Linked DNA regions of Homo sapiens: region 2 is linked to region 1. The links come from fine-mapping of genetic effects on gene expression. Tissue or cell type: whole blood. Region 1 holds a variant in brackets; the other region holds the start of a gene. All regions are shown on one strand. Distances are from middle to middle.

Region 1 (8,260 bases):
GTTTCTCCTCTCCATCATCACCCCCTTTAACTGCCAGTGACCACATGCCAGATTCATGAAGGGCACACTGAAATTGACGAAGACCTGTGCCATGGGTAGCGGGAAAAACTGGGCTCCCTTTAGTAAGCAGGATGGTGTTGAGGTCTCGGAGGCAGGCAAGGGGTGGGCTCGGAATCTCTCCTGGAAGAGAAAAGAGAAGGGAATTTGGATTCTGTATACAAATATAGAAATTCCCTAAGAGTTTAAATTTGAACATGGCATTCAGGGGAGAAGATTATGGGTTCCAAGCCTTTTCCTTCTTCCCCTTCTTGTGAATAACTCACTCAGCTGCTTGCATCTGTGTCCTAAGGCTGTGAACCGAAGAGCTGGGCAGTCCACAGTTGGTTTGAGCCTCAGAGTACCTTGCTTAGTAAAGGTTTGTTTTAGGAGGGATGACACAAACTTTTGAGTAACTCTCAAGTCTTGAACTATGAAACTTCGTAGGATGTCAACACTAAAATGAACCTTACCGATTATCTCATCTAGTGGTTTTCAAACATTTGGAAAATTGGTACAGCCCTTTTTTTAAGCAAAATCTTAGAACTTGAATAAACCAGGTAGAAGGTGGTAGGCCCAGACTTCCTCTCCCACTCTTGACACCCTGAGCTCCTCCCTCTGTACTCACAGCCCTCAAAGTGCTCCTCTCTCAGAGAACCATCCATTGCAGAGACCAGGGAGCTGTGGCCCATGCCCCATGTAGCACCGTTTCATGGCAGAACCAGCTCTGACTTCCAGGCCAGTGGCAAGTCCCTGCAGTACCTTGGTTTATTTTGATGTAGGAAAAGCTCTGGGTAGTAAGAGTGAAGAGTCAAACAGCTACGACTGAGAGTGAGGAGAAAGACAACACTGCCCATGGTTCCTGACACCCAGGGTCACTTTTTACCAACCTAACTCTGGGTCACATGACGTACTCGTATTCTGAAACTGTTGGTTTCCTGGATGTCTACCTGTGATGTCTTGGATCCATGTGGTTCTCTCTGCCTAAAATATCCTCTCTTGATTCACCTTCTTAACAACAGCTTTCTGGAGATATAATTCACATAACATAACATTTACACTTTTAAAGTGTACGGTCCAATGGTTTTTAGCACACGCAAGAGTTGTGCAGCTAGCTGGGCATGGTGGCTCATGCCTGTAATCCCAGCACTTCGGGAGGGCAAGACAGGCGGATCACTTGAGTCCAGGAGTTCAAGACCAGCCTGACCAACATGGTGAAACCCTGTCTCTACTAAAAAATAAAAAAATTAGCCAAGCATGGTGGCAAGCACCTGTAGTCCCAGCTACTCGGGAGGCTGAGGCAGGAGACTTGCTTGAACCTGGGAGGCGGAGGTTGCGGTACTCGAGATCGCTCCATTGCACTGCAGCCTGGGTGACAAAAAAAAAAAAAAAGAGTTGTGCAGCTATCAGCATTCGGCATCCCACGCTGTCTGCCTTTGACAGACAGAGATGCTCTCTGTCTGCACCTTAGTCCTTGGGCTGCTTTGCGACCTGCCCTAACTGCCAGCCCTGCCTCACTTTCTGTAACTCAGCTCAGATGTGGCCCCCTGGAGATGTCCCCTCCAGTCTCCCCTGCTTGGTCGTTTCTATGGGTGACTCAGTGAAATTACAGCAAAACCTGATGAGACATCCCTCCAGTGGAAGGAATCCAGTGTGAAACATTGTGGCCAGACAGCCTGGGTGACTTTTGTGCTGAGAACAGCGAAGCAACCCGACTTGTTGAGTCTGCCTTAGCACCCGCTCCCCCACTCAGACACGTAAACATGGCACAAACACTCCCACTTGAAGGGAAACAGAAGTATTACTGGAATCATGGTAGGTCATGGAGGTTTAGAAGCTTGTGATCGTGAGGATTTTTGGAGAATCTGTTGGAGGAAGCCAGACCTCCGCCCTCTGACTCAGTGGCTCCGTGCTCTGAGCTGGTCAGCCTCTGCTGTGGCTTCAAAGGTCATTCGCCTCCCAAGGGGCTATCAGGACCCCTGGGGCGAGGAGTACAGGGCTCAGCACCTCGCCTGGCTCATCGGGAGACTGAGCAGGTGTGGCAGGATGACTGTGGCTCACCTCCGTGTGTGGGCCCTGGAGGTCACGGAGTTCCTCATCATGGAGCAGATCCTCTCGGACTTGAGGGTGTTTCACAGGCTTTCAGATTCTAAAGTATCCCCTGCGTTGCCATTGCCCATGGTTGCCTGGCCGTGTGACTCCTTATTGTCACTTTCTGCCTCAGGTGTCTCGTTTCTGCTAAACAGAACATGTGAGATTTCCCTGGCATCCCCACCAGTGTCGACGTGCAGATGAATATCAACCCACAGACCCCGATGCTGTTGGTCTGTCCCTCTGGGCGATCATGAGCCCCCCAGATCAGTGGTAAAGAACAGCCCTTCCTATGCTGCCCCATCTGGCTCCTCCCGCATTCGGGTGGCGCGCGCCCTCAGGCTTCCCCCTGCATTCTTATTTTGTAACTTCCATGGTAGCCCATTCATAGTTTTCACCCTAAACTCTAGGTTTAGACGTGGACATTTGGCACACATGTGGTTTATAAAGCCTGAGGCCAGGCCTAACCCTTAGTATCCAGTGATGATGAAATGGATGCATTTCCCATTTCCCTCCCTGAAATTAGGTCTTGATGCTGTACCCTAGTAGGTGGCTGGTATGAGAGGTTCCGTTCGCGTTGACCTTGTGTGAAAAACCAATCTTGCCAAGTACTTCTCTCTGCCACCATCCAGCTGGTGACTCTTTCAGCTGAATTATTTTGCCTGCTAGGTTACTCACCAGGTGTCATTCTAGAGTCCGCACGGCCTTAGGGTGGGATCGCATGGCTTTCATTGAATTACCTGCTGTGTGACCATAGCCAAGTTGCTTAACCTACCTGTGCCTCTTTTTTTCACCTGTAAACAGTAATGTGGGATAATAACACCCCTGCCTTCTGCAGGGTTGCTGTGATGATAAAATGAGGATGTGTGTTACATGCCTTTTAAATGGTAAGACCTAAACATCTTTGCTGTTATTCCAATCATAACTTTGATAGTTCAGTAAGTCCTCACTTAATGTTGTCCATAGGTTCTTGGGAATTATGACCTACAGCAGGCCCTTGAATAATGTTTCATTAAAATGTTGACGAGAACAAAAATTTGGTTTCACTATGTATCTTTTCACTTAAACGAGAGGACAGAGATCCTCTGTGAAATTACAGTGTCTTTGGAGAAAAATCAACTTATATATGAGTTATGTTTGTGTATTTTTACCTGGTCTTTTCCCAAAAAGATTTCAGGTGACAGAAGAATACAAGCCAATACGATAATCTTTTTTTTTTTAATTTTTTGAGACAGAGTCCTCTCTGTCACCCAGGCTGGAGTGTAGTGGCGCCATCTCGGCTCACTGCACCCTCCGCCTCCCAGGTTCAAGCGATTCTCCTCCCTTAGTCTCCTGAGTAGCTGGGATTACAGGTGCTCGCCACAGTGCCTAATTTCTTTTTTTTTTTTTTTTTGTATTTTTATTAGAGGTGGGGTTTCACCGTGTTGGTCAGGCTGGTCTCGAACTCCTGGCCTCAAGTGATCCTCCTGCCTCGGCCTCCCAAAGTGCTGGGATTACAGGCATGAGCCACTGCGTCTGGCCAATAATCCTTAATAAAAATGTGGACTGAGAAAGCTGGACCGAGGACTGAGGACCGTCCGGGAAGAGAACAGCAGCTACCCCGTGCTTGCCTTCATGCTGGGAAGGCTGCGGGTCTGGCTTTAGGAGGAGCC[T/C]GTGTAGGGTACGAGGGGCAGCGGCAGCTCCACAGCAGGCGGCAGCCCACGCCCAGTGGGTGCACACCTTCATCCAACTCAGGGCTGGCAGTCAGGAAGATGAAATGCCATCCACGTCAAGTTTCGGTCTGTCTCCCACTCACCGAAGAATAGTCCCTCCTTTAAGGGAGGTGCTGAAGAGTGCTGAGAACTTGCTTCCCACCAAGGCAGGCTTGGGCTTCAAAAGATCAGAACCTGACCCAAGTGGCCCTAGTTTTCCACCATCCCACACCATCCCACCAACGCTTCAGAAGTCCTGCCAGCATCAAGCCGGGCATGAGGCCGTCCAGACAGCTCATCACTGCCCTGGGGAGACACATGCATGTCACAAACCTGTGAGGCTCAAGACCGCATCCTGCACAGGGTGCAGGAGTAGAGGCGGGGCAACGGCCTCTGCCGTCGCGGCTTTGGGAGGTTGCAGTGGAAGAGGCAGGCGTGGCCGAATCAGACCCTGAAGGATGACTTAGGTGGAACACGGGGAAGAAAGGTGGTCTGGATAGACATGCAGGATGCTGGGTGTGGGGCAAGCCTGAGTCAGGGGAGCCTCCCTGTGCTCCTTAGCCTGAGGCCATCGCCTGGCTGTAGGCGGCAGCTTCTCCTGCCGGCTGGCTGGCCGGCTGCAGGCAGTTCTCAGCACTAAGTCCAAGATGACTTCCATTCTGGTGACTCGAAGGTGGTTTTGTATGTTGTGCTTCATCTCTCAGGGACGAGTCCTTAATTAAAAGCAGCCGGGAGCTTAGAGAGACCCTGGCTTCTCTGCACACAGGTGATGGGTTGTGTGCCTGGCCAGGAAATGGTTCATTTAATTAGGCTCCGAGGGCCTGGTTCATCCCCTTCAGGGAAGCTTAAGGTTACATGTGGACAACAGGAGCCTTGTGTGTGCCTGTGGTTGACCCAAATGTAGTGATTTTCATTTCTCCTTTCCATTTGTCTTCTTTGTTCTGCCCCTTCCTGACCCTTTCTTTAGGAAACCGTTGTGGCCCCTTCCAGGCTGTGAGATTCCAGAGGGCAAAGCTTTGGGGTTTGGAGTATGAATGGCTGAAAGCGAGCCCAGGAGGCCTGCTTTTGTTTATTATTTATCTCTGGATGGTCAGGGCACCTGTCTGAGAAAAGAAAGAGATGGAGGGGACTTACCGTTTCCTGAAAAAGCTCTTTGTTGTTAATGGCATGTGGAAGACTCATTTCTAAGTAGAATAAATCATTTGTTGGTCAAAAATGGCTTCCTAATGTTGGCCCTCTCGGCCAGCCTCAGTTGTATTAAACCCTAGGTAACCAACCACAACCCCCGCCTTGAGTCATGTGCCTCATATGAGCAGGTACAGATGCTGCTGCACCCTCGAAGGGGTTACGTGACGAAAAATCCACTGGAAGTAGAAAATGCTTTTAATCCCCCTAACCTGCCAAGCGTCGTGGCTTAGGCTGGCTGACCCTAAATGTGCTCAGAACACACCTACAGTTTGGTGAAAGCACCTGGCGCGCGGTGGCTGTAGAGTGTCATCGCTCACCTTTTTGATCACAGGGCTTGTGGGGAGCTGTGGGAGCTGCTGTCTCCCTGCGTCATGAGGGAGGATCAGACCGTGCATCGCTAGCCCAGGAAAAGATCAAAATTCAAACTACAGCTTCTACTGAATACTATCGCAGAATCAAAAAAATCTTAAGTCAGAAACATCTGTGTTACTCCGCCAGATGTGCTGTATGTACCATTATCTCAAATCTATGTTGCGTGGCTTGCTCACTTTTTTTGTTTGTTTGTTTTGTTTTGTTTTGTATTTTGAGACAGAGTCTTGCTCTGTCACCCAGGCTGAAGTGCTGTGGCGCGATCTCTGCTCACTGCAACCTCCGCCTCCTGGATTCAAGCAATTCTGCCTCAGCCTCCCAAGTAGCTGATTACAGGCCTGCGCCACCACGCCCGGCTAATTTTTGTATTTTTAGTAGAAACAGCGTTTCACTATGTTGGCCAGGTTGGTCTCAAACTCCTGACCTCAGGTGATCCGCCCACCTCAGCCTCCCAGAGTGCTGGGATTACAGGCGTGAGCCACTGTGCCCAGCCATCGCTTGCGTTTTAATGTTGCCAAAATTGGGAAATTGCTTCTTACACTTAATGTGTACACTTAGCGATGTTATAATTACTGGTGCATCTTACAACTTACAGCCTTCACAGGAAGAAAGCAGGCTGTGCTTGCACTTAAAGAATATGGCCCTTGGCCAGGCGCGGTGGCTCATGCCTGTAATCCCAGCACTTTGAGAGGGCAAGGAGGACGGATCACCTGAGACCAACCTGGCCAACATGGTGAAACCCCATCTCTATAAACATATAAAAATTAGCTGGGCATGGTGGTGCACACTTATAATCCCAGCTACTCATGAGGCTGAGGCAGGAGAATCACTTGAACCTGGGAGGCAGAGGTTGCAGTGAGCCGAGATCGCGCCACTGCACTCCAGCCTGGGCAACAGAGCGAGACTTCGTCTCAAAAACAAAACAAAACAAAAAAATATGGCCCTCAGCGCCAAGTGACTTCTTAAAGAGGAGAGAGGCTGGACCTGGAAGTGTCCTCTTGTGTGTGGCCCTGGCAGGCGGGGGGCCAGTTTCTCACTAGGCTCTGCTGGGCAGTAGGCACTGAGCCCCTGCCCACACGCCAGGAGTCCCCGAGGCCCAGAGTGGAAAGGTCACATGTCGGATCTGCTGTGGGCTGTGGGCTGTGGTGAGGGGCAGGAGAGCCCAGCCCTGCAGCCCTTCCCAGGCGACCCCAGGCACCTTGGGTCTGCCGTGACCGGGCACTTGGGGGAAAAAGCTTTGGTCCTCACAGTCCCATAATTCCCCCAATTCTATTCTTTTTTCCTCCCCTGTCCCCTGAGCCTGACTGGGGATGGGGGCAGCTCGCCTTGTTGACCCGGTGGGGCCTGGTCTTTGGAAGAGCTGGGTCAGTCTCAAATTGAGATTCTCATTCCTCTCCACCTCGTGTTGGCTGGGACAGCCGGGGCCAGCAGCTTCCCCGTGCCTGGGTTTTCTCATCCACAGGTTGGGGGGTGCCCTCAATCCTGCCTCCGAATAGGTGCGCCATACCCTAGCTCACGTGGCTATTATCCTAAGGAGATATGTTTTGATGCTTCCTGGGGTGAGCGGGAGCCCCTGGGGTCCCCCTCTGGTTACTCAGGGGTACCACTTGCCTGAGTCTCTGGGAGCACAGCTGCTTCCCGTCCAAAAACAAGCTTGGCCACCCGGGTGTGACTTTCAGGCCCGGCGCGAAGCTGCCGCCTGTGCAGGTGCCTTCTCATTGCAGAGGTGGCCATGCTCAGAGAGCCATTAGGCAAAATGGGTCGGAAGCTCCAGCCTCGGCTACATGAAGCTGTGCTTCCGTGGCTCAGTGTTCCTAATGACAAACTGGGGTCCCTGTAACGAAGCTGCCCTTGGGGAGTTGGGGAGCAGGCTTGTGTTTTCTCTACACTAAGTAGTGGTGGTGGGGTGGGGATTCCTGCATCTCTCATAGGCTGGTGGAGGCCATGTGTCCATCTGGACAGACCGGTGAAGGGAGCCCCACTGAAGGGATCCTGACCTGGAGGCCATCTCCCTAGGCGAGGACAGCCAGCTTGCAGGCCCTCACTGGGAGGCCTTTCCCAGCATGTGCTCTTGTACCTTTTTGAATTCTGACCTATGTGAATGTATTACCTATTATACATAAGTAAACACTTTTTTTCTTGAGTCAGGTTCTTACTCTGTCACCCAGGCTGGAGTACTGTGGTGCAAACACGGCTCACTGCAGCCTCGACTTCCCGGGTTCAAACAATCCTCCCACCCTAGCCTCCTGAGTAGCTGGGACTACAGGAACATGCCACCATGCCTGGCTATTTTTATTATTATTATTTTAGTAGGGACGGAGTCTTGCCCTGTTGCCCAGGCTGGTCTCGAACTCTTGATCTCAAGCGAGCCACCGCAGCTGGCCTTTTTTTTTTTTTTTTTTTAATTCTTAAGAAAAGCAGTGTGCCAGGGCCTGCCCTCACACTTGGAGTGACCCAGGAGGTGCTGCGTGCTGCCTCACTGGGTCTCACTCCAGCCGCGCTTTGCTCCTCTCTGTTCTTGCACTTGCCTCAGTGGCCTCTGCAGCAGAGCCTCATGCCAGCTCTTCCCTCTTCTTGGGATGCCCCTGTTATTTTTCCCTGCAGTCTTGGAGGGCCGGCTCCTTGGTCATTATTCACATGTCATCTCTGTGCCACCTCCTAGACTGCTGACTTGCCCCCACAGCAACCCCCTTCTGTCGTCTCCTGCAGGTTCGCTTCCTGCCTCTTTTTTTTTTTTTTTTTTTACCTTGAGACAGAGTCTCTCTGTGTCGCACAGGCTACAGTGCAGTGACACAGTCTTGGCTCACGGCAACCTCTATCTCCCAGATTCAAGTGATTCTCCTGCTTCGGCCTCCTGAGTAGCTGGGATTATAGGCATGCACCAC
Region 2 (8,000 bases), 110 kb after region 1:
TGGCTGAGAGGTTTATTTTCCTTTCATGAATAGGTATTAAATTTTGTCAAATGCTTTTTCTGCATCTATTGAGATGGTGATATGGGTTTTGTCTTATAGCCTGTTAGTATAGTAAATTATATTGATTGATTTTAAAATATTAAGCCAACCTTGTATTCCTGGGATGAAACTAACTTGGTCATGGTGCATTATTGTTTGTATTTACTACTGTATTCATTTTGCTAAATTTTAAAAGGATTTTTGAAAAAAATAAAGAGGATTTTGTGTCTAGATCCATGAAGGATATGTGTGTAGTTTCTTTTCTTGTAACATCTTTGTGTCATTTGGTATCTGGTAATGCTAGCTTCAAGATGAGTTGGTAAGTGACCTCTCCTCTTCTATATACTAGAAACATTTGTCCAGAATTGATGTTGTTTCTTCCTTAAGTGTCCAATGAAGCCATGTAGACCTGGAGTTTTCTTTGTGGAAATATTTTTTTTTATCAAGAATTCAATATCTGGGCTAGACGAGATGGCTCACACTTGTAATTCCAGCACTTTGGGAGGGTGAGGCAGGAAGAATACTTGAACCCAGGAGTTTGAAACCAGCCTGAGCAATATAGCGAGACCCTGTCTCTACAAAAATATTTTTACAAAATTAGCCAGGTGTATTGAGGTGCACCTGTAGTCCCAGCTACTTGGGAGGCTTGGGCAGAAGGATCGCTTGAGCCCAGGACGTTGAGGCTGCAGTGAGCTATGATTGCACCATTGAACTCAGAAGACAAAGCAAGACCCTGTCTTAAGAAAAAAAAAAAATTCAGGTTGTTGTTTTTTTTATTTTTTTAGACGGGGCCTGGCTCTGTCGCCCAGGCTGGAGTGCAGTGGTATGATCTTGGCTCACTGGAACCTCTGCCTCCTGGGTTCAAACGTTTCTCCTTGCCTCAGCCTTCCAAGTAACTGATTATAGGCACACACCACCACACCCAGCTAATTTTTGGATTTTTAGTGGAGATGGGGTCTCAGCATGTTGACCAGGCTGGTCTCCAATTCCTGACCTCAAGTGATCTGCCTGCCTCGGCCTCCCAAAGTGCTGGGATTACAGGCATGAGCCACTGCGCCCGGCTGTCTCATTTTTCCTTACTCATTTTCCAAACACATTCCTTACTCATTTTCCAAACATAAACTTTGGTAGTTTGTGTTTTTCAAGGAAATTGTCCATTTCATCTAACTTACTAAATGTATTCACATAAAGGTTTTAATAATCTACCCTATTGTCATTTAAAATGTCATTTAATGTCATTTAATGACATTTAAATATCACTTAAAATGATAAATTTGTATAATTTGTAGTGGTGTCTCTTCTGCTCTTTCTGGTGTGGTTAATCTGTGTATTCTCTCTTTTATTCCTGATCAGTCTAGCCAGAGGTTTATCAACTTTAGCGATGTGTTTATAGAACTACTTCTGGTTTTACTGACTTTTGCTGATGTTTTTGTTTTATATTTCATTTATTTTGGCTTTTTTTTTTCTTTGAGATGGAGTCTTGCTCTGTTTCCCAGGCTGGCGTGCAGAGGAGTGATCTTGGCTCACTGCAGCTTCTGCCTCCCGGGTTCAAACGATTCTCCCACATCAGCCTATTTTGGCTATTATTTTTATTATTTCCTTTCTTCTGCTAATTTTGGTTTTACTTGACTCTTCCTTTTGTGGTTTCTTAAAGTACAAGCCTCGGCCGGTGCAGTGGCTCACACCTGTAATCCCAGCACTTTGGGAGGCTGAGGCGAGAGGATCCCTTGAAGCCAGGAGTTCAAGACCAGCCTGGCAAACATGGTGAGACCCCTTCTCTACTAAAAATACAAAAATTAGCCGGGCATGGTGGTGCATGCCTGTAATTCCAACTACTCAGGAAACTGGGACATGAGAATTGATTGAACCCAGGAGGCTGAGGTTGCAGGGAGCTGAGATTGCACCACTGCTCTCCAGCCTGTGTGACAGAGTGAGACTGTGTCTCAAAAAAAAAAAAAAAAAAAAGTAAATGCTTACATTATTGATCTGAAATATTTCTTCTTTTGTAATATGTCAAAGTGGTGCTATAAATTTCCCTCATAGCACTACTGTGGCTGCATCTCAGAAAATTTGATATGTCCTGTTTTTACTTTCATTCAGTTCAAAATATGATCTAATTTTCCTTGTGATTACATATTTGACCCATGGGTTATTTAATTTCTAAATATGTGGGGATTTTCCAGATATCATTCCATTATTATTTTCTATTTTTCCTTTTTCTTCTATTTGTTAACTTATTTACTTATTTTCAGTTCCCTCTCAGGCTCTAAATTCTGTTATTCTTTTCTTTTCTTTTCTTTTTTTCTTTCTTTCTTTTTTTTTTTTTTTTGAGGTAGAGTCTTTCTCTGTCACCCAGGCTGGAGTGCAGTGGTGCGATCTTGGCTCACTGCAACCTCCGCCTCCCAGGTTTAAGCAATTCTCCTGCCTCAGCCTCCTGAGTAGCTGGGATTACAGGCACACACCACAATGCTCGGCTAATTTTTTTGTATTTTTAGTAGAGATGGGGTTTCACCATATTGGACAGGCTGGTCTTGAACTTCTGACCTCAAGTGATCTGCCCACCTTGGCCTCCCAAAGTGCTGGGATTAAAGGTGTGAGCCACCGCACCCAGCCTGTGTTATTATTTTCTAGTTTAATTCCATCGTGTTCAGAGATGTACTTTGTATGATTGGAATCCTTTCAAATTTATTTATTTATTTATTTATTTATTTTTAATATGGAGTCTCACTCTGTTGCCCAAGCTAGAGTGCAATGGCCTGATCTCGGCTTACTGCACTCTCCACCAACCAGGTTTAAGTGATTCTCCTGCCTCAGCCTCCTGAGTAGCTGAGATTACAGGGGCACGCCACCACGCCTAGCTAATTTTTGTATTTTTAGTGGAGACGGGGTTTCACTGTGTTGGCCAGGCTGGTCTCAAACTCCTGACCTCAGTTAATCCACATGCCTTGGCCTCCCAAAGTGCTGGGATTACAGGCGTGAACCACCGCTCCCAGCCTCTTTTACATTTATTAAGACTTGTTTTATGCCTCCAAATATGGTATATCTTGGTGGATGGGCACTTGAAAAGAATGCATATCCTGCTGTTGTTGGATATTCTATTCATGTTGTTTATGTGGAATTGGTTCATAGCATTGAGTCTTGTATACCTTTACGGAGTTTCCGTAAATTATGACTGATAACTGTTCTACAACTATTGAGAATGGTGTGTTGAAATCTCCAATTATAATTTTGTATTTATCTACTTGTTCTTTAGTTCCATTATTGTTTTTCATGTATTTTGATGATCTATGCTTAGGTGCATATATATTTAGAATTATATCTTCTTTATTAATTGACCTCTTTGTCATTATGGTATGTCCCTCTTTGTCTTTGGTAGTTGTTGTTGTTGTTGCTGTTTTGAGACAGGGTCTCAATCTGCAGCTTCGACCTCCCAGGCGTAGATGATTCTCCCACCTCTGCCTCCCAAGTAACTGGGACCACAGGTGCATGCTACCACAATTTGATAATTTTTAAAATTTTGTTGTAGCGATAAGATCTCCCTGTGTTGCCCAGGCTAGTCTCAAACTCCTGGACTTAAGCAATCCTCCCTTCTCAGGCTCCCAAAGTGCTAACATTACAGGTGTGGGCTAGTATGTCACCCACTGTGTGGGCCAGTATTCTTTGTTTTGCAATCTACTTTGTCTGATATTCACTTAGCCATTCCAACTTCTTAAAATTTAGTTTTGTCAGTGTATGTCTTTTCCCATCTTTTTGCTCTTAAACTATCTCTGCTTTTATATTTGAATAGCTTTCTGGTATTTACCATATAGTTTGGTTTTGCTTTTTTATCCATTCTAACAATCACTGCCTTTTACTTGTGAGCATTTACATCATTTATATTTATGTAATTATTGATATGATTGGGTTTAAATCAATTTTGCTATTGGTTTTTCATTTGTTCCATCTGTCTATTGGTCTTTTTTTTTCTTTTGTATTTGGAGACAGATTTGCCCTCTGTCACCCAGGGTGGAGTGCAGTAGAGCTATCACAGCTCACTGCCGCTGGGCACTGGTCCATTTTTCTATCTTTTTTTTTTTCTTTTGAGACAGGGCCTCCCTATGTTGCCCAGGCTGGGTTCAAACTCCTGGGCTCAAGTGATCCTCCTGCCTTGATCTCTCAAAGTGTTGGCATTACAGGCGTTAAGTCACCAGAGCCAGTCAGTTTTTTTTCACTTAGGTACAGAATTCAATGCCAACAGTTCTTTTCTTTCAACACTTTAACCATGTCACTCCATGGGGACGCTGTCTTGAGCCTTTGGTAAGCCTCATTCTCCAGGACCACACGGCAGGCGCGACAGCCCTAGGTCCACCCCACCCCGTAAGCGCTCCCTCCGGGAGGAGACAGAAACCCAGGACAGCTCCGGGGCAAGGCCGAGGAAGGAGGGACGACGGGGCAGGGAGGCCCGAAGAGTCCCCGCCTTTTGGGATAGTCGCCACCCTTGGACCCCCTCACCCTTGGGGACGTTGAGGAGTGTTAAAATCTCCAAGACGCGAGTCACCGGTACGAAGCCACAGCCATTTCGCTGCTTGCTCGGTGCAAGTGCAGAAGGTCCTAGTAGCCGAGCGTGGAGTCGAGCTCGTGGGCGGCGTCGGGCACCTTCGGCCGCGCCCTCAGCTGCACCCGCCGGTGGGCGGGGCCCGAGCCCGTCTCTAAAGCCACGAGGCCGCCCGCTCCGAGCCTGGTGCTTCCGACCGCTGCGCGCGGCTCCTGGGCTGTCACAGTCTCCCGTTGCCGCCGTCATGTCCCGGCAGCTGTCGCGGGCCCGGCCAGCCACGGTGCTGGGCGCCATGGAGATGGGGCGCCGCATGGACGCGCCCACCAGCGCCGCAGTCACGCGCGCCTTCCTGGAGCGCGGCCACACCGAGATAGACACGGCCTTCGTGTACAGCGAGGGCCAGTCCGAGACCATCCTTGGCGGCCTGGGGCTCCGGCTGGGCGGCAGCGACTGCAGAGGTAACAGTGGCCCCTGATCCTCCCCCTGCACGGTGCAGAGCTGAGCCTGTCCACAGCCGTGTACCGCCCCGCTCTCCCTGGCCCCGGGGCAGCACCCAAAGTTTTGTCCCCCCCACCGCCCCCACCCCTGTTCACCTCGCAGCCTTGGGAACACCAGGCTCCTTAGGCACGTCTAGCTCCGGACAACTTTTCTCTCGTCTTCTCTTCTGTTCGTCTCTCTTCTCTTCCGGGAGGTAGCCAGCACCCTCACTGACGCCTGGATGACTTGGTCTTGCCTGGAATGACTTGGCTAGCCCCTCTCTGGAGCACAAAAAACACTGGGATCTGGCATTGTGCAGCTCCTGTCCCCACCTGTGCCCTCCAGGTGCCCTTGACGGGCCTGATCTGCAGAAATTCTGTTCTTACCGCCTGGCACTCCCTGGCACAGTCCAAAATCAGAGTTTGGACCCAGCACACTATCTGCTTCCTCCTTTGCACATGCCAGCCTGCTCGGGGCCCCGGACTTTGCTCTGAGTACCTTGTGGTACTCACAAGGGCACCTCACAAGGGTGGCAGTGCCCGGAAGCCTTGGCAGCTCCCTCAGGGGGATGAGGGATTGGGGTGGTACAGAGTCTCACTGCCCTCTCTGTGGGAGGCTCTGTCGGAGGCTATTGGAGAGAAATGGACACTAACCCACTCCAGGAAGCTCCAGTTCTAGAGATGGCTGGGGAGCCCAGAGTGACCCCTTCCTGGGAGGGACCCCGTGAAGAAAGAATGGATAGGAGTTTGCCAGGAAGAGTACAAGGGGCAAGGGCGTCAGGGCAGTGGGCATGGGTGTGGAAAGGCAAATGTGTTTTGGCAATGCCGCGGGTGCTGGAGGAGGCAGGTGTGGCCGGAGGGGAGGATGTGTGTATAGGGGCAGGAGGAGCCGCCCTCAGTCTGATGCCATTTGCAGTGCTTAGGCCGATGCCTGGCAGGCACATAGTGAGGGCTGGGAAATGTTAGCTGTTTGTTTGTTCTTAGTATTAGCACCATTTGCCTCCTTCCACTGAGTGTCTGAGTGGAGTCTTATTTCTCCTCTGATTCACCACATGGTAGATCCAGAACGAACCTGGCCTGTGCGTGCATCCCAGTGCCACGCTCTTTCTAGATCACCCGGCTGCCACTCAGTGAGAGCTCTAACCATATTTCTGATTTTTTTTTTTTTTTTGAGACAGGGTCTTGCTTTTTTGCCCAGGCTGGAGTGGAGTGGTGCGATAGGGCTCATTGCAGCTTTGACCTCTCAGGGCTCAAGCCATCCTCCCACCTCAGTCTCCTGAGTAGCTGGGACTACTACAGTAGCACCACACCCGGCTAATTTTTTGTATTATTCATTGAAACTGGAGTCTCACTTTGTTGCCCAGGCTGGTCTTAAACCCCTGAGCTCAAGTGATCCTCCTGCTCTGGCCTCCCAAAGTGCTGAGATTACAGGTGTGAGCCACCACAGATCTGTACCCTCTGCCTGGCCCTTATTTCTGATTTTTTTTTCTTTCCTTTTTTAATCCTTCTTTGTCTTCTGTCTGAGTCCAAGGTTGGCTGGCGAAAGTCCTCAGATCTGATCTGAAGTTAAATTCAATTGAGAAGCAGAGGGGTGGTGGTGGAATGGAAAAATTCCATATGAATAGTTCCTCAAACCTGCTCTTTGCTAGGCCTCAAGGGCTCCAGTGACTGCCCTCCTGCCAGCCTAGGTGACTTTCTAAGTGTGAAAAGTGGGAAGAGGACTCTCCACTCACCTGTTAGTCCAGTTCACTAGGAACTAAGATTCTTTTTTTTTGTTGTTTGTTTTGTTTGTTTGTTTGTTTTTTGAGAAGTCTCACTCTGTGAGACATTGTGCTGTGGCACAATCTCGGCTCACTGCAACCTCCGCCTCCCGGGTTCAAGCAATTCTCCTGCCTCAGACTCCGGACTAGCTGGGGACTACAGGCGGGCTCCACTATGCCCAGCTAATTTTTGTGTTTTTATTAGAGATGGGGTTTCACCATGTTGGTCCAGCTGGTCTTGAACTCCTGACCTTCTGATTTGCCTGCCTCAGTCTCCCAAAGTGCTGGGATTACAGGCATGAGCCACGGCGCCTGGCCCTGAATTTCATTTCTCTTTCCTCTCAGTGAAAATTGATACCAAGGCCATTCCACTGTTTGGGAACTCCCTGAAGCCTGACAGTCTCCGGTTCCAGCTGGAGACGTCACTGAAGCGGCTGCAGTGTCCCCGAGTGGACCTCTTCTACCTGCATATGCCAGACCACAGCACCCCGGTGGAAGAGACACTGCGTGCCTGCCACCAGCTGCACCAGGAGGTGAGGGGACCCCTGAGCTCTGGGAGGTGGTCCACTGCTGCTCTCCTTATCCTGATCCTAATGGTGAGAGCAGAGGCACCAGGGCTGTTCCAGGGTGGAGCAGGGAACAGCCCAACTCCCAGGGGCCCCACCCTGGCCTCCCTTTCCTGGTCTGGGCTGCACTATGTTCTGACTGGAGCCTCACCTGAGCAGGGCAAGTTCGTGGAGCTTGGCCTCTCCAACTATGCAGCCTGGGAAGTGGCCGAGATCTGTACCCTCTGCAAGAGCAACGGCTGGATCCTGCCCACTGTGTACCAGGTGAGAGCCAGGGCTGCAGAGGCCAAGGTCTCCAGAACTCCTGCTCATCCTGGGCTGTCTTTGCCCCTCTGACTGCCCCCTGTGCCCTCTGCATAGCAGCCACTCCCCTGCTGAAAGCCTGCAGATGGCTCCCAGGTACCCTCAGGATGCCATTCAAGCTCCTCAGGCTGGCCACTGGGCATCTGCTTCCTTCCTGCCTATCTGTGCACCTTGGACCCTTCCTTCCCTACCTTCCCCTGCACTCAGCCTGGAACAAGCCCTTCCCCCACCACCGCCCCTTCCGTGAGAGAATGGTTCAGGTCTCACATACGTGTCTCTTCCTCTGGAAGCCTTTCTAGATGGGCCCAGAAGACCCTGAGAC

What was found. PIP is the estimated chance that this variant, and not a neighbour inherited with it, causes the effect.
Region 2: AKR7A3 starts here. The variant in region 1 is fine-mapped to the expression of AKR7A3 in whole blood (TOPMed, PIP above 0.99).

What each region holds. Positions count from the first base shown.
Region 1 is chr1:19,392,047-19,400,306 of GRCh38, reverse strand. All of the region lies in intron 2 of CAPZB (capping actin protein of muscle Z-line subunit beta), which reads left to right. Among named protein-coding and RNA genes, the nearest start is that of SLC66A1, 84 kb to the right of the region's middle. RefSeq lists an enhancer at 7,133-7,272. The variant T/C (reference allele first, on the strand shown) is at 3,780.
Region 2 is chr1:19,285,527-19,293,526 of GRCh38, reverse strand. It overlaps AKR7A3 (aldo-keto reductase family 7 member A3), which reads left to right and starts at 4,757. Exons shown (of 7, transcript NM_012067.3): 1 at 4,757-5,031; 2 at 7,155-7,342; 3 at 7,535-7,639. The coding sequence starts at 4,818. LOC124903867 (a long non-coding RNA gene) reads right to left here and starts at 5,467. Exons shown (of 3, transcript XR_007065521.1): 1 at 5,167-5,467. It overlaps LOC100506730 (a long non-coding RNA gene), which reads left to right. Exons shown (of 1, transcript NR_037847.1): 1 at 1-280. RefSeq lists enhancers at 3,880-4,701, 4,702-5,524.